Linked DNA regions of Homo sapiens. The protein of the gene in region 1 purifies or fractionates together with the protein of each later gene. This does not show direct contact. Each region holds a gene or a part of one and is shown on either strand. Other genes may lie near its edges.

The links. The genes of interacting proteins can lie anywhere in the genome.
Region 2: the proteins of SLC30A7 (region 1) and CNOT10 purify together in Homo sapiens (affinity purification with mass spectrometry; one large-scale study listed by BioGRID and IntAct). This does not show direct contact.

What each region holds. Positions count from the first base shown.
Region 1 is NC_000001.11:100,976,078-100,979,320, reverse strand, and holds part of SLC30A7 (zinc transporter 7), read right to left. Parts: 3' UTR 1-3,243. UniProt on the Homo sapiens protein: Zinc ion transporter mediating zinc entry from the cytosol into the lumen of organelles along the secretory pathway.
Region 2 is NC_000003.12:32,691,677-32,695,335, reverse strand, and holds part of CNOT10 (CCR4-NOT transcription complex subunit 10), read right to left. Parts: intron 1,173-3,659; exon of another isoform or gene 1,096-1,172; intron 1-1,095. UniProt on the Homo sapiens protein: Component of the CCR4-NOT complex which is one of the major cellular mRNA deadenylases and is linked to various cellular processes including bulk mRNA degradation, miRNA-mediated repression, translational repression during translational initiation and general transcription regulation.

The sequences.
Region 1 (3,243 bases):
AAAACATATAATTTCCTTTTATTTTTTTTTTTACCAAAGTTCTTATGAATTGGAAAATAATTTGTTTCAAAGACGGTGATGAAAGGAAAAAAAAAGTTTAACTTTCCAAAGGTAATGCTTTCATGAAGAGTTAGAAATAGCAGTTTTAGTAATTAGTTGTAGGAATTCTGGTTAAGACTTCAACATTTTACCTTACTTAAAAGATTTGCTTTATGCAACATTTAATGCCCAGTTTTGCATGGCTCTAAAAATCTTTAAAATGCAAAAGCTTTTCCAGTGACTGGAAGCCAACACGACAAGAATGAAATGGTATGACCTGTGAATTAGCCTGGTTTATAAAAAAATACCAGTTCAGAGACCATAAACAAAATAAAGAAACTAAGCAATCCTTAAATTGGATTTAGCCTTGGGCAATTAGCAGAAAAATTCACTCATAAAAGGATCCATTTTACAGATATTGTTTTTTAAAATGTCAGGAACTGGTTTTATAAGAGTAAAAAAGTTAAAATTAATTGCATCTTCCATAAAGAATATGATGGAAATAATTATATACGAAAAATGAGACAATAAAAGTCCATTTATAAAGTGCCTTAATGTACCAAAAAAGGAGGTCAGATGTCCTTTATTTACAAATCATATTTAATCCCATTTACAGAAAGGCAAATATTACACTGGAGAGGCAGCATAATAGAGTATAAAGAACTCTCAACTTCGAGTCAGAAGATCTGAATCTTTTTGGCTTTGCCACTAATTTTCTCTGTGACTTTGAGCAAATGAGAGTTTTTCTGGGCTTCGGTTTTCTCATCTGTAAAATGAGAGGTAGAACTACACTGCTTCTAAAGCCAGTCCTTGCTTAGATGTAAAATTCTGTGTTAAGCAATGTAAATATGGTTCTTAAGTTTTGGAATTACATAACAGGGTTCTACCATATTAATAATCTCTGTAAAAACTGATTATTCCATAATAGGTAGGTAAAAACATTATAGAACTGTGATCAAATACATTTTGAGTTCATGATTTGGCTGCTGTACAAAGGTGCAAAAAAGGCATAGCATTTTGGTTACTGATATACACGTGTAGGTTTTCAGGAATGCTGACAAATTCCAGATATAAGGGAAATGACAGCACAAGGAACACTGACCTACAGATAAACTAGATACTGTCCTTCACAAAGATGCATGGGGAGTTAGCAAACTGAGGAAGCTGTGGATATGTTAAGCCCTTCATCTTGAGGAATATAATCTATGTTTAAAAAACCAAAGCTAGTGGCTGAGCACGGTGGCTCACACCTGTAGTCTCAGCACTTTGGGAGGCCGAGGCAGGAGGATGACCTGAGGTCAGGAGTCCAAGACCACCCTGGCCAACGTGGTGAAACCCTGTCTCTGCTAAAAACACAAAAATTAGCCGGGCGTGGTGGCGTGCACCTGTAATTCCAGTTACTCAGGGAGCTGAGACAGGAGAATCACTTGAACCCGGGAGGTGGAGGTTGCAGTGAGCTGAGACTGCGCCACTACACTCCAGCCTGGGCGACAAGAGTGAAATTCCATCTAATACAAACAAACAAAAAAAACAAAAAAACAAAACCAAAGATAGTATAGCTATATTTCTGTTTGGGAAGGTTTACCAGGCAAGGTAAACTGTCCCTGAGCAATACAAATTTGTTGTCCAGAGAATATTTTGGCTTTTAAAATATTGGCAAAGTTACACTCAGATACGAGTTTTGTTTGGTTTTTTTAAGAGTTAGCTCAATATCAGGGACATTGTAAATTAATTTTATAACAATAATCTGGTAGTATTTCTCATTGGAATTATCTACTTTAGTAATATACATGTGCCAAGAACACTAATAAGACAAAATATTTCCTAAGAGTGACAAAAAGTTGCTTTTTCTCACTAATTTTTTACTGCTGCACACATAGGTATACTGGCATTTAATTAAAGCATAAATGTTAATGCCAACTTGCTAAATGATATGCGCTGGCAATGTAATGTAACAAATGCAAATTCACATCAGTCTAACACTGTATAAACATACTCATGCATTTGTGTACTGATAGTACAGTCAAATAAAATGATTCATATTTTGACAAAAACTAAACTTGGAATGGAGGGCTCTGTGAAAGGCAGACTTGGGTCTTCAAATATCTCCGTATGTGAAATATCAGTATTTATACATAATCAGTTTTTAAAGGCACACATCCAAAAGCTCCCTTCATCTAGATCTGTCATTTTCTCTATCTAATATGCCAAAACCCACAGAATATCCCAGAGTTCTCTCAGACTTGGTGGTGGTTGCAAACTTCTAATGACTACTTATATTTGTAGAAAAACCAGTACCATTATCAGGACACTTCCTTTTGAACTTTCCTGCTTAAAAGACCTCAACAGTTGTTTTAAGCACATACTACTGCAGTAAATCATAGATTTCAAACCACCTGGCAGTAAGCAAACATGTTTAGAAAATGCCACTTTGCCTGCGGAAAAGAGACTATTGATAGAGTTCACGGCAATCTGCAGCAGTTTAGAAAAGAATGAAGAAAGTGGTCTAGTTCTCCTAATAGAGAGTAGTTTATAGTTGTAGGTCAGAAATAGGGGAAAAGACACTCTAAAACTTAGAATCAACAGGGATTTCTGCCACATCACTAAAAAGTACTTATTGATCTACATTCTTAATAATTGTTTCCATCCTGCAGGGTTTTTTCTCCCACATTTACAATTTTTTTAAGTTAAAAGGGAATATGTATTGTAAAATGAAGTATAAGGGAAAATCAGATCATTTTCTCTTCATAAAACACAGAGAATACTTAAGTAGAGTGCTCAAGCACTTATCTCGAATTGCAATTTTATTTTTCAAATACGTAAGAACCTAGAAAATCAACTCAGCACTTACTTCCTAGATACCTGTGTTAGGAAAAGTTCTACATCACCACATTTCCTCTGTACCTTTAATAATTCAAACTCAATAAAATGCTGCTTTAGGATTCCTGAAAGCAATTGTATTTGTGCAAAGCCTAAACAGGAAAACAAAGTGGATGACTTGGCATTTGAAGAATGAAAAAGCCAAACAGCACTGTCACAACCATTTCTGCCTTCAGTCTCCAATGCCTTTTTCTTTCATTATAAAATCCATAGAAATGGCAAGGAAAGATATAGGAAAGTTTATCACAGATACAGTAGCTATTACAGAAATTTGGAATTCAGCAGATGTTTTAAGTCAAAATTTTCTGTGTAACAGATGAATTT
Region 2 (3,659 bases), on another chromosome or scaffold:
AAATCTTAAGAAGGATGCCACTTCGAAGAAAAACAATTCAGGCCCACTAATGTCACTATACAGCTAGGTTAACATACCTCACATATGATTTCTATCATCTGAACAAGTATACTTGACTTACCAAAACCTCAAATGGTTTATTCACTAAACCATATTCCCTCCACTGGACAAGAGGAGCTGGAGAAATGGGAAAGCACACACTTCGCAGCCCAAAGAATAAGCCATTTGTAACAAGCAATGTTACAGAATTGAGCATCCTGCCCAGTAGTGTAGAAATAAAGGAACAGAAATTCAAATCAATAATATCAGCATGGCCAGCACGGTGGCTCAGGCTTGTAATCCCAGCACTTTGGGAGGCCAGGGCAGGAGGATCACCTGGGGTCAGGAGTTTGAGACCAGCCTGGCCAACATGGTGAAATCCCATCTCTACTAAAAATATAAAAGTTAGGCTGGGCGCGGTGACTCACACCTATAATCTCAGCTCTTTGGGAGGCCAAGGCAGGCAGATCACGAGGTGGGGAGTTTGAGAGCATTCCGACCAACATGGTGAAACCCCCATCTCTACTAAAAATACAAAAATTAGCTGGGCGTGGTGGTGCGCACCTATAATCCCAGCTACTCAGGAGGCTGAGGCGGGAGAATCACTTGAACCCAGGAAGCAGAGATTGCAGTGACCCGAGATCATGCCACTGCACTCCAGCCTAGGCAACAGAGCAAGACTGCCTCAAAAAACAAACAAACAAACAAAAAACTGAAAGAAGAAAAAACAATATCAGCATGCTTTAAGGAAGCTAGGCAAAGCAGAATATTGCCACTGCTGATGAGTATTTTGTTTTCACATCTAAGAGGAGGAGTTTTTATGCATAGAAAAGACTGAGATTTACTCTAGTTTTAAAATATTAATACTTAATTTATTAAAGTTACAAATTCAAAAAGCCTAGATTTTACTCAAATTTTTACACCGAACTTAGACAACTTATTCTACTTGGAGGTCTAATTTTAAAGGCCTGTGATGAATGTCTAAACTCATTTCAAAGTTCACCTTCAACATAACATCTTCAAACATAAAATGTTAACTACTTAAAAAATTTTACCAAGACTACACTTTCAGGGATCATTTCTACAGTTTGTTACTGGAGAAGTTTCTCTGAAAGTGTAGAGTACCAAACACTTTTTTTAAATTAAAAAAAAAAAAAATTTATCAAGTGAGAACTATTGCAACCCCCCCACCAAACCCCAACAATATATTCAATTTTAAGTATAATTGCTAGACTTAAAAAGACAAAATTTTTGTATTTTAACATGTGTCAAGAAAAAAAAATTTCCTGAGAATAACTTACATACCTAAAAAATTAAACTTATAGTGACTCTTAGGTACTCTCTAATGTCCACAAAATAAAATAACTGCAATAAGGTTTCAATTTAAATTCACAAGTATAAATCAATATTCAGTCAATTATACATTTTAAATTGAAATCATAAGACTAATATAAGTGCCGGGCATGGTGGCTCACACCTGTAATCCCAGCACTTTGGGAGGTCAAGGTGGGAGGATGGCTTGAGCTCAAGAGTTCAAGACTAGCCTGGGCAACATGACGAAACCTCATCTCTACAAAAAATACAAAAGTTAGCCAGGCGTGGTGGCGCATGCCTATAGTCCCAGCTACTTGGGAGGCTGAGGTGGGAGGATCGCTTGAGCCTGGGAAGTCAAGGATGCAGTGAGCAGTGTTCATGCCACTGCACTCCAGCCTGGGTGACAGAGTGAGACCCTGTCTGGAAAAAAAAAAAAAAAGACCAATATATTACTCTAAATTCTAATATTAAAAACACTTACTCACGCCTGTAATCCCAGCAATTTGGGCAGTCAAGGCAGGAGGCTTGCTTGAGTCCAGGAGTTTGAGACCAGCCCGGGATACATGGCAAAACCCTGTCTCTACAGAAAAACAGAAAAACTGGCCAGGTGTGGTGGCATGTACTTGTAGTCCCAGCTACTTGGGAGGTTGGGGTGGGAGGATCACTTGAATCCGGGAGGTCGAGGCTGCGGTGAGCCAAGATCATGCCCCTGTACTCCAGCCTGGGCAACAGAGTGAAAGCCTGCCTCAAAAAAATTAATTAAATTTAAAAAAGAAAAAAAACCACTTTAAATATCAAACATAGGTCACTACCACATCAACTCCTTGTTCTGAAAACTGGTAATTGAAAATAATGAATTAAGCTTTTAGCATTTAACATGGCTTTCTGGGAAGACTAACAGTCAATATGGGAAAGCTATTCTTTTTTGTTGTTGTTTCTGAGACAGGGTCTCACTTTGTAGCCCAGGCTAGAGTGCGGTGCTGTGATCACGGCTCACTGTAGCTTCGACTTCCTGGGCTCCAGTGACCTCCTACCTCAGCCTCCCAAGTAGCTGGGACTACAGGCACGCAGCAGCACACCAACTAAGTTTTTTCAATCTTTTCGTAGAGACAGGCTCTCATGTTGCCCAGGCTGCTCTTGAACTCCTGGGCTCAAGCGATCTGCCTACCTTGGCCTCCCAAAGTGCTGGGATTACAGGCATGAGTCACTGTACCCAGCCCAGGAGAGCTACTCTTTAAAGAAGAATATTCACTAACAAAGGTAGAAACTACAATAGAACTAGGTAAAAATCATTTTGTAACCCTCAATAATACAACTGATTGAGGAAAGAATCAACAACAGTGGATATTTACGAAATGCCAATTACTCCATAAATTACCTCTAACTGAAAATGGAAAAAGATGTTCCTGTCAGCACCTCAAATTGATCAAATTTAGCATCACTAATACTGGATAACCTGACATTATGTACTTTATACAGAAAATAAAGTATATAACATCACCTACAAAGTTTCTCAAAAATATGTTGAACCTATATCTAATCAAGCCTGTAGAAATAAGTTAGAGTTTAAGAAAATACAGGAGATAAAGCTGGGTGCAGTGGCTTACACCTGTAATCCCAGCACTTTGAGAGACCAAGCTGGGAGGATTCCTTCAGCCCAAGAGTTTGAGACCAGCCTGGGCAATATATTGGGACCCTGTGCCTACAAATAAATTTTTAAAATATAGCCATAGCTGGGACTACAGGCACATGCCACCACACCCAGCTAACTTTCTGTATTTTTTGTAGAGACAGGGTTTTACCATGGTGCCCAGGCTGGACTTGAACTCCTAGGTTCAAGCAATCCACCCACCTCGGCCTCCCAAAGTGCTAGGATTTATAGGTATGAACCACCATGCCTGGCGGGAAATTGGCTTTTTTTTTTTTTTTTTGGTGACAGGGTCTCACTCAGTCACCCAGGTTGGAGTGCAGTGGTGTTTATCTTGGCTCACTGCAACCTCTGCCTCCCAGGCTCAAATGATCCTCCCACCTCACCCTCCCTTGTAGGTGGGACTACAGGCATGCGCCACCACTAATTTTTTACATTTTTGGTAGAGACAGGGTTTCACCATGTTACCTACGCTGGTCTCTAACTCCTGAACTCAACTGATCCTCCCACCTCAGACTCCCAAAGTGCTGGGATTACAGGCGTGAGGCGCCATGCCTGGCTGGCAGGAAATTTTTAATATATTAAAACATGAATTGTCTAAACTATGACAATGGCATCATGGTTACATAGGTGAATGTCCCTATTTTTAAGAAACGCA